2 separate regions of the Homo sapiens genome follow, and region 2 is linked to region 1. A link means that fine-mapping ties the variant in region 1 to the expression of a gene that starts in the linked region. Tissue or cell type: left ventricle. Region 1 holds a variant in brackets; the other region holds the start of a gene. All regions are shown on one strand. Distances are from middle to middle.

Evidence for each region. PIP is the estimated chance that this variant, and not a neighbour inherited with it, causes the effect.
Region 2: POLR1A starts here. The variant in region 1 is fine-mapped to the expression of POLR1A in left ventricle (GTEx, PIP 0.92).

Annotation. Positions count from the first base shown.
Region 1 is chr2:86,014,204-86,022,307 of GRCh38, forward strand. It overlaps POLR1A (RNA polymerase I subunit A), which reads right to left. Exons shown (of 34, transcript NM_015425.6): 34 at 6,013-8,104. Among named protein-coding and RNA genes, the nearest start is that of POLR1A, 88 kb to the right of the region's middle. The variant G/A (reference allele first, on the strand shown) is at 3,276.
Region 2 is chr2:86,101,528-86,109,631 of GRCh38, forward strand. It overlaps POLR1A (RNA polymerase I subunit A), which reads right to left and starts at 4,359. Exons shown (of 34, transcript NM_015425.6): 1 at 4,173-4,359. The coding sequence starts at 4,249. It overlaps PTCD3 (pentatricopeptide repeat domain 3), which reads left to right and starts at 4,708. Exons shown (of 24, transcript NM_017952.6): 1 at 4,708-4,824; 2 at 6,823-6,875; 3 at 6,973-7,009. The coding sequence starts at 4,721. RefSeq lists enhancers at 3,879-3,968, 4,169-4,378, 4,759-5,018.

The DNA of each region.
Region 1 (8,104 bases):
CAAGAGGCAGCTGTTCCATGGATCAACCATAGGGTAGATGTGGGCCATGGGAAGGGATGGGCCTGGTCACCAATTAGCTGCAGATGAAGAGGCAGTTTCTGGCCTGGATGATGATGAGTTGCACAAATAGTTCTCCCCTTGACAGAGACGTGATTGACTCCCAAGCCTGGGCAGGTCCCAGGTTCCAAACAGAACAGAAGTCCCTGAATCTTATTTCTACCACATTCAGTTGGTCAAAGCTAGTCACAGGCCAGCCCAGATTCAGTGCTGGTGGGGCCTACCTGACGGTGTGAATACAAGGAGGCTCAAGTCGCTGGGATCATTTCATAACACCCCACCACCACATCCAAGTTCCAGACAGGAAGAAAGGGAAAAACAAAGCCAAAGGCCAGAAGCACTTGCCACCTAGCTAGGCCTATCCTTTTGAACAAGCTTTCCCCGAAGTCTCATTCAGTGCCTTCCTCTGGTCCAGAGAAAGAAATGGGTCACATGACTATCCCTAGCTGCAAGGGAGTCTGGGAAACAGTATTTTAACCTGAGCACACTGACACCACCAATAAAATCCAAATTCTCAGTAAGGAAGAAGGAGAGGATAGATCTAGAGGAAGCAACTAGCAGGGCCTGCTTCAGAGGCCATGGAAGAGTTGGGGGGAACCACCACCACTAAGTGCTTTTATGGGAGAGAAGCCATGCTCAGCATGCACCAAATTATGAGAAAATGGAGAGGCTGGTTCATTAGGTCTGGGGTGGGGTCCAAGGTGTGCATCTCCAACATGCTCCCAGGGCTGCTGATCCTGGCAGTAGGAAGATCACACTTGGAGTGGCCCTAAACTGGGTTATACTGGGGTCACAAGCAACCCCACATGTCAGAGGTTTAAATAGCTGAGGTTTGTTCCTTACTCATGCAGCCTGTGCACTGTGAGTTGGCTGGGGCTTTGCGCCTGGGAGCCAGGTGGCCAGAGCATCTACCATCTGGAGCAGCACTGGTGACCAGGCCAGAGGGAAAGAAGTCATTCATGGCAAAGAATTAAGCAACTCTTAGAAGTCATTCAAGTCAAATGGCCATGCCCAACATCTGGCAGGGAGGGGAAGCCGGTACTGGTGAACCATACTACAGACTATGACAGCTTCACAGAAGAGATGGGATTTAAGCAGAGGGGTCTTTGAAGGATAAATAGGAGCTTACTCTGTAGAGAAGGGGCCAGAACATTCGAGGCTGAGGGAACATCATAAATAACTATAACACCAATGTTGAGCACCTGTCGTGTACCAGAAGCATTCAAATCGTTTCCTGACTGGTCTTCATGAGAACACTGAGATATTATTAGTCCATTTTATAGAAGAGGAGGCTGGGGGTCTGAGATCAGCTGGCCACTTGCTGAAGGTCACAGGGCCAGAAAGTGGGGCCCAGGAAATCAAACCCAGTGTCCTGGCCCTTCCCTCCCCTGCCACAGTGGAGTCATGGAGCCTCGTGACTGTGTGGAGTGTTTGCAGAATAATCTGTGTGATGCTCTTTCTCTGGAAATGGCCCCAACACCCAAAGGGTTTTTTGGGGGTGGATGGGGAATTATTAAGGGGTTGCAATATTTTTTTATTGTGGTAAAATACACACAATGTAAAAGTTATCATTTTCATCATTTTTAAGTGGCATCATTTTAAGTTCAGTGGCATTCAGTACATTCACATTATTGTGCAACCATCATCGCCATCCATCTCCAGAACTTTTTCATCTTTCATAATTGAAACTGCCTCCATTAAACATTAGTTGCCTATTCCCTCCTCACCCCAACTCCTGGCAACCACAATTCTAATTTCTGTCTTTAAGAATTGGAGTGTTCTAAGTACCTTATATACATGAAATCATATAGTATTTGTCCTTTTGTGTCTGACTTTTTATCTTAGAGTAATGTCCTCAAGGTTTACCCATGTTGTAGCGTGTGTCAGAATTTCATTCCTTTTTGTGGCTGAATAAGGTTCCATTGGATGTATATACAGTATTTTGTTTATTTATGCATCGGTCCATGGATACTTAGGTTGTTTCTACCATTTTGGCTATCGTCAATAATGCTGCTATGAGTGAACAAATATCTGTTTGAGTCCCTGCTTTGGGTCCTTTTGTGTATAGACCCAAAAATGGGATTCCTGGTTCTAGAGGAGTTTTTCTGTTTGTTTTGTTTTTTTAGACAAAGTCTCACTCTGTTGCCCAGGCTGGAGTACAGTGGCACAATCTCTGCTCACTGCTACCTCCACCTCCCAGGTTCAAGTGATTCTCCTGCCTCAGCCTCCCAAGTAGCTGGGATTACAGGCGCGTGTTACCATGTCCAGCTAATTTTTGTATTTTTATTAGAGATGGGGTTTCACCATGTTGGCCAGCCTGGTCTCAAACTCCTGACCTGTGATCCGCCCTCCTCGGCCTCCCAAAGTGCTGGGATTACAGGTGGGAGCCACCGCGCCTGGCAGGAGTTTTAAACATACAAGACAAAGGTGCCTGTGGGCTTCGTTGGGGTCTGGGAAAATGCTGCGCAGGAGCACTGCAGGAGGATGCCAGGCCCTAGGATGTCCTAGTTCATCTCCCTTCAGCTGGCTCTGGGGAGGAGGATCTGTGGGAGCCCCGCATCCCATCCAAGATACACAAAACTTCTCTGCCAGTTGTTTAACTGCTTCACAGGCACAGACCTTGTCCCCAAGGAGTCGGAATGTTCTCACGGGAAAACAGTCGATAACACACCCGAGTCTTCCTTTCCTTCATCTATAAAACAGAGGTGCTGGTGTCGCCCGCCTGCCTCACAGACAGTTGTGAAGTTTGAATGAACTAATGCCTGCAAAGGATGCAGAGAGAAGCTGGAGGCTCATTCTGCACCTGCTGCTGCTGTAGGCCTGCCACGCCCAGCCCGCTTGCGGGTCAAACTGGGGCGCTGACAGGAGCTGCTGTCTGCAGAGGCTGGGGGCCTCTGGGGCTATTTCCACAAACCCAGGAGAGTTCTGGGGCTGAAACAGCTAAAAAGAGGGCAGACCAGAGGTAAGATGGCTTCCTCATGACAGTTCTAGGGCCGAGGTTCTCAAACTGGAGCATGAGTGAAAATCCCCCTGATAGTGTTCAAACTCAGATAACAGCCTCCACCCTGCAGTTTCTGACTCGGGAGTCTGGGGTGCGGCCTGATAATTTGCATTGTAACAACTCCTCCTCCTCCGGCTCCTCTTCCTCTTCCTCCTTCTCTTCTTCTTTTTTTGAGACAGACTCTCGCTCTGTCACCCAGGCTGGGGTGCAGTGTCAC[G/A]ATCTCATGATCTCAGCTCACTGCAACCTCTGCCTCCTGCGTTCAAGCAATTTTCCTGCCTCAGCCTCCCAAGTAGCTGGGATTACAGGCACCCACCACCACGCCCAGCTAATTTTTGTATCTTTAGTAGAGACAGGGTTTCACCACATTGGCCTTCTGGTCTCGAACTCCTGACCTCAAGTGATCTGCCTGCCTCGGCCTCCCAAAGTGCTGGGATTATAGGTGTGAGCCCCCGCACCTGGCCTGCATTCTAACACATTCTTAGGGGCTGCCGTTGCTGCTTACCTGGGGACTTCACTGTGAGAACCACTGCTCTAGAAAATGAAGGAGAAAAAGATGTTCATTTTTGAGGACCGTGGACACATGGATTCCCTCCTCCTTCTCTTTTTTCCCTTTCCTTCCTTCTTTGTCCAATATTTAATTGAGCATTAAAATTGGGACTACAGAGAAAAAAAAAAGACAGAGTCTTGGCCTATAACAGAGAGTCTAGAGCTGGGCTGGCCAGATGGTCGCCGGCTGCCCAGGGACCCAGCCTGCTGTGACCGGACGCGGAGGAATCCCAATGAGTCAGCCTGCAGGTGGAAGGGAAACACCGTGTCCCAGGCCAGGGGCCAGGGCAGCTTGCCAGGTCCTGTGAGAGCCCAGGCAGAGCCCGGGCAGCCCTGTCCCTGGGGTTGGGTGGTCCCCAGGCGGCAGGACGCTGGGTGAGGAGCCGGTTTGTGGAAGAGCACCTGCGACAGGGCTGTGCCCGCCCAGGCCAGGCCTTCAGAGGCCACGATGGAAGGTGGATGAGAAGTACAGTGAGCAGGACAGACATCCTATGGGCAGTGGAATGGCCTTGGCTCAAGTTGTTCCATTTCCCCTTTTCAATACTCTGCCCCCCATGCTGAGCCCCGCAGGCTACCTTCCCATGGATCCACCCTCCAGGCTTCTGTAGCCTTCCATTCCCTCCCTCACCGACCTGGCTTTCATTCCTCAGGGGCCTCCTATTTTCAAAGGAGAGAACTAGCCACTTTGATCAGCACGACCTAGGAGATGTCACCCTACACCAGTCAGAACCCGAGGACGATGCCAGAGGTGCCCCACGCAAAGGCACATCTCCAAGAGGGGCAGCAGACCTGGCCTCCCCTTCACCACTAGATCCATTTCTTCAACTGTGAAATGGGGCCAACAGGACATGTGTCGCCGGGCTGTGGGGATTTGATGAGATGATATCACAAAGAGGTTCTTTGTAACTGGTACAGTCCATAGCCAGGTCCTCTCCGCAGGAAAGCCCCAAGGCTGGAAGATCCCTTTGGGTTAACCCACCACTATTTCCTCAAACTCTTCAATATTGACTTGTGCTTTGATTTGGGCCATCACTTGGGAGTCTCAGTTCCTTAAGGTGACTGCTTGTTATTCATTTGCTCTAATTTCATCTCTTGTGAGCTGCCAGCTCCCCAACTAGATAAACTGCAGACCCCACCCCCTAGTAGTCTCGTCTGTACCTCCTAGAGACATACCTTAGAAGAGGTGTTCTGGGGCCTGGAGAGGCATTTGGTGCCCTCACATCTACCTGCCATACCACATGCAGGGCAGCCTTTAACAAAGTCCAATCCTCAGGGTCTGTCCAAGCAAAGGGGGTGGACACAGAGAGGAGATTAAGGACCCAGACTCTGGAGACACCTGCTTGGCTTCAAATTCCTGTTCCACGACTTGATGACTATGTCTTTGGGTGAGTTACTGTAAGACGAGGAGAGTCACCATACTCCCTCACTGGGTGGTTGTGAGGAGTGGATGGATGAACAGGTATAAAAGACTGGGGCCAGCCTGCACCTGGTGAGCTCCAGGTCAAAGTGAGCCCCTGCATTTGTAAGCGAGCCAAGCAGAAGCCACGAATGACGGCAGGGCTGCTTCATGTTGCTCCTGATTTCTGGTAATTTTCTGCTCTTACCACAGTCCCCTCCAGCACAACTGGACATGCTGCTGTAAGTGTAGTCTTCTTATCCATCACAATAGGTAATTTGCCTTTTTAAAAAATTTTATTTTTGAGACAGAGTCTGGCTCTGTCACCCGGGCTGGAGTGCAATGGCACAATTTTGGCTCACTGCAACCTCCACCTCCCAGGTTCAAGTGATTCTCGTGCCTCAGCTTCCCAAGTAGCTGGGACCACAGGCGTGTGCCACCATGCCTGGCTAATTTTTTGTATTTTTAGTAGAGACAGGGTTTTGCCATATTGGCCAGGCTGGTCTCAAACTCCTGGCCTCAAGTGATTCTCCTGCCTCGGCCTCCCAAAGTGCTGAGATTATAGGCATGAGCCACCATGCCCAGCTGTGCTTTTTCAATCAATCTATGTACCTTAGAAAAGGTTGCAGTGAGCCGAGATTGTGTCACTGCACTCCAGCCTAGGCGACAGAGAGAGATTCCATCTCAAAAAACAAAACAAAACAAAACAAAAACAAAACAAACAAAAAAAACTGCTCCAGAAGCCCTAGCCAAAGTCTAAAGGCGGCCACTGGCCTGGGTGGCCAAGAGCTAACATCTTTACTCAAGGTTTTACACAATGCAGGGACTGTGCTGAATTCTTTACCTGGCTTGGGAGAAAAATGTTTAGCACAGTGACAAAAGGTTATCTATATCTATAGTAAATACAATTCTTTAAAATTGACAAAAGCAATACCAATAACCCAATAGAAAAATGGGCAAAGGATACAAATAGGCAGTTCTCAGAAGTGCAAATCAGAATAACCAATAAACATGTGAAAAGATGCTTAGATTTATTAATAGAGAATTGCAAACTGAAGTACAAATGAGGCTGGGCATAGTGGCTTACACCTGTAATCCCAGCACTTTGGAAGGTGAAGGCAGCAGATCGTGTGAGCTCAGGAGTTTGAGCCTGGGCAACATGGTGAAACCCCGTCTCTACAAAAAAATTAAAAAATTAGCTGGGCATGGTGTTGTGTGCCTGTAGTCCCAGTTACTTGGAAGGCTGCGGTGGGAGGGTTGCTTGGTCCTGGGACTTCGAGGCTGCTGTGAGCCGTGATTGCAACCCTGCACTCCAGCCTGGGCAACAGAGTGAGACCCCGTCTCAAAAAAAAAAAAAAAAAAAAAAAGATGCCACTGCTTCATCTATCAGAATGGCTAAAATGTAAATGATTCCACTTTGTAAAATAAACAATGTTAACCCGCATCTATGTGTATGTGGCAGGGTTTCCTCAACCTCGGCATTATTGATATTTGGGGCTGGACAATTCTTTGCTGTGGAGACTGTCCTGTGGACTGTAGTTTAGCAGCATCTCTAGCCTCCACTCCCTAGATGCCAGTAGCACCTCCCTCCAGTAGCAACAAAAAATGTCCGCAGACACTGCTGAATGTCCCCTGGGGGGCAAATTGCCCCAAGTTGAGAACCACTTAGTGTATAGGTAAACATGTATAGTTGTGTGCAATTTAATGAACACAATTAATTTTACCACCATTTTACATAAAAGGAAACTGAAGTGCATTTCTTAGGGTCCCACTGTAAGTTGAGGGCTTGAGATTCCAAGAAAAGTCTTATTTCAGAGCTCAGTGTCTTGCCCAAAACGCAGCCTCACTGCTCAATCACATTCTTGAGGTTTGATTGGCTGAACGCACGTGGAACATCAGGTTCATGTTTCCAAGCAAGAATCATGGGTTGGGGAAGGCAAGTGTTTACTGTGGTCCAGCTGAGGACTGTGGTGTCTGAAACTTTGTCACATGGGAGGCTACAGGCCCGGGGCTGGCTTGGCTCCCGTGAAAACACTGCAGCGGGCAGCCAGTCCGGAAGGCAGCATCTGGCAGGGCCTCCAGGCCTTCTGAGTAAGGAAGACCCCAGCTTGCAAAAGACATAGAGGCAGCACTGTGACTGGAACTGAATAGCCACACCTATATCACCCATATTCAAGGGCAAAGGGCCAGCAGCCAGGGTGGAAGTGGGGGCAGGAGGTGGGGAGGGGATGGCTGGACTCCTGATTCTTTTTCAGTTTCCCTCCCTTCTGGCTGTTGAACACCCAAGTACCTCCCCACTGTCCTCTCCACTCTGTCCTTCCTACAAAGCACCCTCTAGAGTGCAGCCAGCTGGGCAAGGCATGGTCCTATAGGGGACAGTGTGCATGTGCATATGAAGCCTGCTGGGTACCTCAACCTTTGGCCTGATCATGAAGACGGTGAACTGGCTTGTTTGGGGCAGAAGACTACAAGTTCTGTGAGGGCAGGGCCCACATAGCTTGTGCATCTTAGGGTGCCTGGGACACAGTGGAGATCAAGGTTGGATGGATGCAGCATGGGGGAGGGAATGGTGAGGATGGGCATGGTCAGGTATCTGTCGGCTGGGACAAACCTCCCAGGCCATTGAGTCCAACTTGCGCGAAGATAGTCACTGGGGAGCTGCAGTGACACCTGAGCCTGTGAATAAACCAGGTCCTATCAGGGGGCAGTGTGCACATGCACATGAAGCCTGCTGGGTACCTCAACCCAGGCAGTTACCCAGGTACCCTGCCGGGTAACTCAGAGTTGAGTTAAACCCTGCTCCTTGATGACCACTCGTGGTAGGACAGCGATGCTGCTTAAAGAACTTAAGGAACGAATCTGATTAAATAATTATGATTTAGCATTTTAAGTGGAAACCTCTCATGGAGCTGCTTGTAGGAAACGCTGGCTGGCTGAGTTCCCTCCTTCTGCCCCTGCTGGACAAATGGCCTCGCTTGCTGTGCTGGGCTGGCAGAGCTGCAGGCCTCCAGGTTTCTGCTGGAAGCATCATCCCTTTCTTCTTTCAGGCTTTGTTGAGCCCCAGGTGGAGCTGATGGTGGCATCCTTTGGACCCCACTGTAAAG
Region 2 (8,104 bases), 87 kb after region 1:
TCAAAAGTTGTGCGTGTGGTCTCTTCCCACAAATCTAGAGTCCACCTGCAACCCTGAACTGGGTAACATTGAACAAATTACTTACCTTTTGTTCTTTAATCTTAATTTTTGAAACTGTAATAAAATATATATAAATTCATCATAACTGTTTCAATTAGTACAGTTCAGTGGTATTAAGTACATTTGCATTGTGCTACCATCACCACTCTCCATCTGCAGAACCCTTTTTCATCTTGTAAAATTGAAACCCTGTACCCATTATACAGTAATTCTTCATCTCCTCTGCTACCATCATTTTACTTTCTGTTTTGATTAATCTGACTACTCTAGGTACCTTATATTAAGTGGAATCACACCGTACTTGTCCTTTTGTGACTGGCTTATTTCACTTAGCACCGTGCCCTCAAGGTTCATCCATGTTATAGGATGTGTTGAACTTTTTTCCTTTTTTAGGGCTGAACAATATCCCATTGCATGTATATACCACATTTTATGTATCAACCCATCCATTGATAGACACTTGGGTAGTTTCCACTTTTTCACTATTGTGAATAATGCTGCTATGAACATAGGTATACAAATATCTCTTTGAGACCCTACTTTCAATTCCTTGGATACACATCCAGAAGTAGAATTGCTGGATCACATGGTAATTTTGTCTTTAGTTTTTTGAGAATCCACCCTACTGTTTTCCATAGTGGTTGCACCATTTTACATTCACACTAATGGTGTACAAAAAGCTTCCACTTTCTCCACACCCTTGCCAACACTTACTACTTTCTGTTTTTCTGATAGTAGCACCCTACTGGATTTGAGGAGCTTTTTATTTGCATTTCCCTAAAATTGGTGATGTTCAACATCTTTTCACATACTCACTGGCCATCTGTATGTCTTCTTTGGAAAAATGTCTGTTTAAGTCCTTTGTCCATTTTAAAATTGAATTTTGTGTTGTTGTTGAGTTGTAGGAGTTCTTTTTATGTTCTAGATATCAATCTCTCATCAGATATATAATTTACAAATATTTTCCCCCATTCCATGGGTTGCCCTTTCACTCTGCTGACTGTATCCTTTGATAACTACCTAATTTTTTTCTCACCTGAAGTCTGGGCATCACAGCAGCTCTATTGGGATGATTAGAAGATAACATACAGAAAATACAGTGTCAAACAAAGTTCCTCTCTCTTTGTAGAGGAGAAAGTCCCTCCCACCATTACAGGAGTGGGATGAAGAGTAGGGGCAACTAGCAAGGATTCCACCAGTCAGTAGAGTTTGAGATCAATAGACTTAGGTTTGAAGATGACCTTTGCCACTTCCTAGAGAGACATTTTGTTCTCTGGGCCTGAATTTTTTACTGGAGGTGCCACCACAAATGGTGTTGTTAAGAACTGAGAATGGGTGTCGTTAAGGACTGAAAGTGCCAAGCACTGAGCAGCTAGCTCCTCTATCCATCTATTCATACACTCAACAAATACCCAGAGTGCTCACTGTGTGCCAGACAGTGTTAAGTGCTAAGGAAACAGACAAGAACTGCTATGCTTACAGGCCTTACATTCTATTGGAGGAACGGGAACAGACACAAAATGTATAGTCTGTTAGACGGCAGAAAGGGCTATGACGAAAAATAATGCAGGGAAAGGGAAGAGCAGAGTAGGCAAGTGGTCCTAGAAGCCCACTAAGGAGGAACTTGGGCAAAGGCTGAAGGAGTTGAGGGAGCAGGCCATACAGTCACCTGGGCAGAGGGTTTTACAGGAGGAAGAAGCAGGGAGTGCAAAGGTCCTGAGGTGGATGTGTGCCCGTGGTGCTCTGGATGCAGCAAGGAGGTCAGGGTAGCCAGAATAGAGGTGAGATCAGAGAGGTAACAGGAGACTGAAATGACCCCTCCAGGCCATTTGTAAAGACTTGGTTTTTACTCTGAGTGAGATGGGAAGCTATTAGAACCTGGCACAATAAAAGGTGGCAGTATTATTGAAATGTCTCAACTCTAAACTTGTTTGAAAACTCCACAATTATCTTTTTAAAAATTCAGGCAACTTAAAACACTTCTGCTTTTGGATGAAATCGTATCCACTTATGGCAGTGATGATATAATTGGAATTTCTGGGCTAGCACACTGTTACCAATGATACCAGAGCTGTGGCTCAGGAGTTTATTCATCCATTTATTCAGACTTGAGGATAAAAGACAAGAGTGACACATATAAGAAGCTCAAGGATAGTGGAGGAAGACAAATATACATAAGCACAAAAAGTCACTAAAGCACCATGACAGACAACTGTATCATGTGCAAAATGACCTCACAAAACAAGGGAGGTGAACTGAGCTTTCAGGTGTGTATGTTGGGTAGGGGACAGAGGGAAGTACCTCCTTTTGGCTGAAAGGACACTGCATGCAGAGGGAATAGCTTAAAGAAAGGCCCAGATGTTGAAATATGATGGCGGTTTCTGGAATATGCAGGTGGTTTAATAGGGCTGAAGAAGGGATGATGTTATAGCTAAAATCAGCATTGGTCTGATCATGGGAGACTTTGCAGGCTATGCTAAGAAAATATACTTTATCTGAGGGAAATGGAGAACATTTGGAGGGTTTTAAGGGTGACAGTAGCATGACTACATTTGCACTTTGCAAGAATAATTTTGACAGCAGTGTGGAGCATGCACTTGAGAGGTGTAAGGGGAGGGTGGAAGGAAAAGACAATTCAAATATGAGATAAGGGCCAGAGGCAACACAGTAGCAATTGGGAGAAAAAGGAGACTAAGAACAAATAGACATGTAGGTGACACAAAGTAAGAGCCCAATAAATAAGTTATATGTCAGGAGAGATCTAGAATAATTTTCCAGTTTCTAGTGACTATTTTGCACTACGTACACCATTTTGGAGGGGTAAGTAACCCCTCCCTTTGAAGAGGGATGCCGTGTTGAGTTTTTTTTTTTTTTTTTTTGAGACAGAGTATTGCTCTGTCGCCAGGCTGGAGTGCAGTGGCACAATCTCGGCTCACTGCAACCTCCGCCTCCTGGGTTCAAGCGATTCTCCTGCCTCAGCCTCCCGAGTAACTGGGACTACAGGTGCCCGCCACCACGCCCAGCTAATTTTTGTATTTTTAGTAGAGACGGGGTTTCACCATGTTGGCCAGGGATGGTCTCGATCTCCCGACCTCGTGATCCGCCGGCCTCGGCCTCCCAAAGTGCTGGGATTACAGGCGTGAGCCACCGTGCCCGGCCATGTTGAGTTTCTGATATGCATTTAGGCCATGTTGAGTTTTTGATATGCATTTAAGATCTCTGTGTGAAATTCAATTAAAGATGTACAGACAGCTGAACAAATGGGTCTGAAAATCAGGGAAATAAATTTGCGTTGGGGATTTAAATTTGAGACTATAAATCATGAAAGTGGTGAGATTGTCTAGGGACAATATTTACCATGAAGAAAACATTACTAGAATAGAATCTTGAAGAACATCAACATTTAAGGAGTAAAATGAGGTACAGACCTTGCTCACCAATGTGTCATTAACGCCTAGCTTGGTGCCTGGAAAAAACTGGATGCTCAATAAATGTTTGTGAGGTTATAGATCGATAGAGGAAGAGAGGGAGGTAGAAGTATTTGTCATAAAAATAGGAGAACTTGAAGACAAATAAGGTTCTGGAAGAAAGGAAAGTTTCAAGAGAGTGCATTGGAGAATGTCAAATGCTACCTTGATCAAAATGAAGACTAAAGAGAGTTCCCTTGATTTAACAACCAGACCGAGAATATAGCAGGGTCCTAGCAAAGAGAAGTTAACGCCTGAACTGACACTTGAAGGACAATCATTTTACAAACAAGAGGAAACTTACTACGTGCCTAATTAACCATGTCAGGTACACTATGGTTAATTCCACAAATGCTTGTTAGTTAACGAGGAGACTGGCAGATGATAACGCTGCAGACCAGGACCCTCCCCACCCTTATATTCCCCTACCTCAGCGCAAACTCTTTCCCCCAGCACCACCGGCCTCTTATCCAGGCAGTCCACGCCGGCCCAGGAACGTTCCCAGAACTACGGCTCCCAGCAGGACAAGCGCCAGACAAGCCTGGACTCAAGAGGATAGACTGGGCAAAAGCGCTTCTGGGAATCGTAGTTTAGGGCGCCGACCTCAAGATCCAGGCTGGGCACGCTACCCGACCAACTCCTTACTTGAGCTCTTCAGCCGAATACATCCCGAAGGAAATGCCCTGCAGCCGCCGCCAGGGCATGTTCTTGGAGATCAACATCCTCCAGGTCCGTTTTGAATTCCGACACCCCAAGAGACGTTCCACTCACCACCTGACTATTCTTAATTCAACCTCAAGCCCGGAGTCACCACGCGATTCAACGTGCGCTTGCGCGCGGAAGCGGTCGCAGGAACGACATTTACGTGGATGAGATCACTTCTACATGGGGGGGGAACAAATAGTTGTACGACTCTCTGCTCGCTCTTTTGTTTTGAAAACAATCAAAGATATATAAGACATCAAAATAATCATTTAGGAAAATTCCTCCGAGGCAAATCGGGTGTATAGAGCTTTTAGCTTCCGTGACGAAGTCTTTCAAACCATGAGCTTGCAACCTCCCATTTTATGATTGCTTTCGTCTTCTTCCGCTTCAGCCAATAGCGGAGCTGTTCCCTGCTCCCCGCCCACTGCGCCCCACCTTCCTGAAGGTCGAGGCACGCTTTCCCAACATGCTCTGCAGAGAAATCAAAGATGGCGGTTGTATCTGCTGTTCGCTGGCTGGGCCTCCGCAGCAGGCTTGGCCAGCCGCTGACGGGTCGGCGGGCGGGTTTGTGTGAACAGGCACGCAGCTGCAGGTAAGAGACGCTTAGGGTATCCGCGAAGAAGACCGCGGAGTCACCTTAGTCCTATGTTTCCCAGCTGGCTGTGGAAGTAGGCACGATGAAATGGTTTGCTCATGCGCGCCCTTAACGGTCGCGTGCCCTTAAGACCAGGTACGCGGAGGTGGCCCTTTGAAATAGGATTCGCAACGCATTTATTCATTAGAGAAATACTTATTGGTTGCTTGCAATATTCTGTAGTTAACACCATCCGCAAAGCTAGGACCCTGCTCTCATGAAGCTTGCGTTCCAGTGAGTGTGGCTATTAGCAACACTACCCCAAATTAAAAATTATCCGCCATTACTCATTTTAACCCAATCAGGAGGAGCGAGGAGAACGTACAAGATCTTCCCAAATAAAAGGCAGTCTCTGGTCGCCACCGTGGGGACTTTGGCTAAAGAAGTTATCAGGTTTTCGTAAAAGCAGAAAAGTCTAAAAGATCTGACTATGCCCTTTTGATCTGTGATAGTTATAGCTTGGAACATGTATGACCTATCTGTGTAATTTTTTTTTCACTCAGTACAAACAGTGGCATTGTGGGAATATGAGAGGCAGTAATTTGTAGTGAAAACTTGCTAAAAGCCTAATTTTAGGTTTAGTGTTTGCCATTCACTTAATTGGATGATAATAGACAGATTTCCTCATCTGCAGACTAGAGTTGGTAATAACCATCCGAAAAGTTTGTGAGGTATAAGTGGGGTATGTAATTTACAATATGTTTTTATATGTACTCTCCCTTAGTTCCCCTCAAGAAAGAGAAACCACTCCATCTGATACTGCAGAAACCTTTGTGCTGCCATTCAATGCCAGTCCTCCGTTTCCTGGTAGCCATCGTTAGCATTTTTCTACTCATTTTCTTTGCCTGAAGCAGAATCTCTTCCTCAGCATCCGTTCTCAAAATAACTGTGATCTCTGTTTTAAGGTCATGAGAAACAAATAGTGTGACTTGAAAGAGTTGATCTCAGAAACTTGAAAGAGTTGATCTCTTTCTGAAATGTCCTTAACGTAGAGGGGTATTCTTGTTTTAAATGATACCTGAAACCAGATACTACTGGAGGAAGTATCTGTCTGTGCAATCACATCTTGACAATTTTCTGAATGTTACTGATGCCATTTAGTAAGGGGAAACACAAGATAATACTAACCGTCACATTATCTGTGGTGTGTTGACTGTGTTTTTAGTGTGATCAGAACACTTAAACAGAACACTTAAAAACTCAGTCATGGGCCAATGATTCTATATTTTGGTTTAAAAAGGATTTCATATTGAACCTCTGAAAATAGAAAATATCAGCAATTCCAAGTCTAAATCAGGCCTTATGTATTTGGTACATTCTTGATTGTTGAAAGAAGTGGAATGAGAAGCCATGGGTCATCTTCCCTATGTTGTAATTGCTTTAAGTGAGGTAGTCCTTTCTGATCAGGGCAGTATCTGTATAGAAGCAAGAGCTCACTGAATTGTTCTTTTAAACATCATAGTGTTTTGGGTTCCTGAAGTTGAAAGTTCTTCATTTCAAACCAGATTGTTCAAGTGCTATTAAAAACTTTCCTCCCTCTCTGCCATTTATGTAATGAGATTGCTTGCTTCCAAAACTTTTGTCTAGCCGGGCATGGTGGCATATGCCTGTAGTCCTAGTTACTCAGGAGGCTGAAGCAGGAGGGTCACTTGAGCCCAGGAGTTCAAGGGTTCAGTGAGCTATAATTGCACTACTTCACTAAAGGCTAGGCAATGGAGCAAGACCCTGTCTCTAAAAAAAAAAAAAAAAAAGTTTTGACAGTCTTGTCCATATCTTGTATCCATTCCTTAATGATATTGAACATGTGTACAGACTGTCTTCTCAGCGTTCATTGACATGAGTTATCCAGTTTAATCCGTGATAATTGGAGAATTTGGGCTCAAAGTACACATAGGTGGAGGTGAGCTGGGTACTTCATTAATGACTATTAGATTTAAGGCTTTTGTTTTTTTGCAGATTTTATTCTGGTAGTGCAACCCTCTCAAAGGTTGAAGGAACTGATGTAACAGGTATATTTTAAAATATATTGAATTCTATTTTTATATCAACACGTTGGATTCCATTGTAGTACTAGGAAACTGATTCATGTTTTCTTTTTTACATTAGGGATTGAAGAAGTAGTAATTCCAAAAAAGAAAACTTGGTAAGTATTCTATCAGTGTTCATTCAGCAAATGGTTGAGTGCTTACTATGAGAGAAGTGTAAGGGTTAGGTAAGGAGACAGTGACAGGAAGAGCAATAGGAGAGCATTCTTGAAGAGAGTAGCTGAGCGGGGAGAAGCTAGGAGTTTAAAGGACAAAAAATGGAAAGGTGGAGAATAGTGAGTGAATGAGCAATGAGATTTACTTAAAAGAACAATTGAAAGAGATTTTGAATTAGTGTGGGTTACTATTTACGTGGTTAATAATACATGGTTATACATGAACATCATCATTAGAATAATTTTTTTCAAGGAAGTTCTCTCATATGATTCAAGAGCAGACAGTTACTGTCTTTATTATCTCTAATGAGGTAAAAATAAAGTAAATGGTGTGGACAGCAAAATTTAGCTTTTTTATTCACTGGATATATCCTTGAACAAATTGCCTCATCTCATTTATTCAACATTTGTTGAATATGCAGGAATTAAAACTTCACAAAAGTGCTTGTTACAGTGTAGTCCTATTGAACGCATTTAGTGGCCCCTCAAAAAGCTAGGTCTTAAAATTATGTGACCTAAAGACTCGGGTTCGCCAGGCGCGGTGGCTTACGCCTGTAATCCCAGCACTTTGGGAGGCCGAGGCGGGCGGATGATGAGGTCAGGAGATTGAGACCATCCTGGCTAACACGGTGAAACCCCGTCTCTACTAAAAATACAAAAAAATTAGCCGGATGTGGTGGGGGGTCGCCTGTAGTCCCAGCTACTCGGGAGGCTGAGGCAGGAGAATGGCGTGAACCCGGGAGACGGAGCTTGCAGTGAGCCGAGGTCGCGCCACTGCACTCCAGCCTGGGCGACAGAGCAAGACTCCATCTCAAAAAAAAAAAAAGACTTGGGTTCATTTAAAAAGACTTTTTTAAGAACTTTATTAATCTGAACTGTGTGATTATTTTAGGGAGGCCAGGGAGCCCAGTGATGTCAATGCATAGGTAACTGGGATCATAAAAGAAGTGCAAATTAAAACTTACCGTATTGGCAGAGAGAGGATTTGAAGAAATACGTTTGTTTATGGGACAGTAAATTGGAACAGCTCTTTGGAGG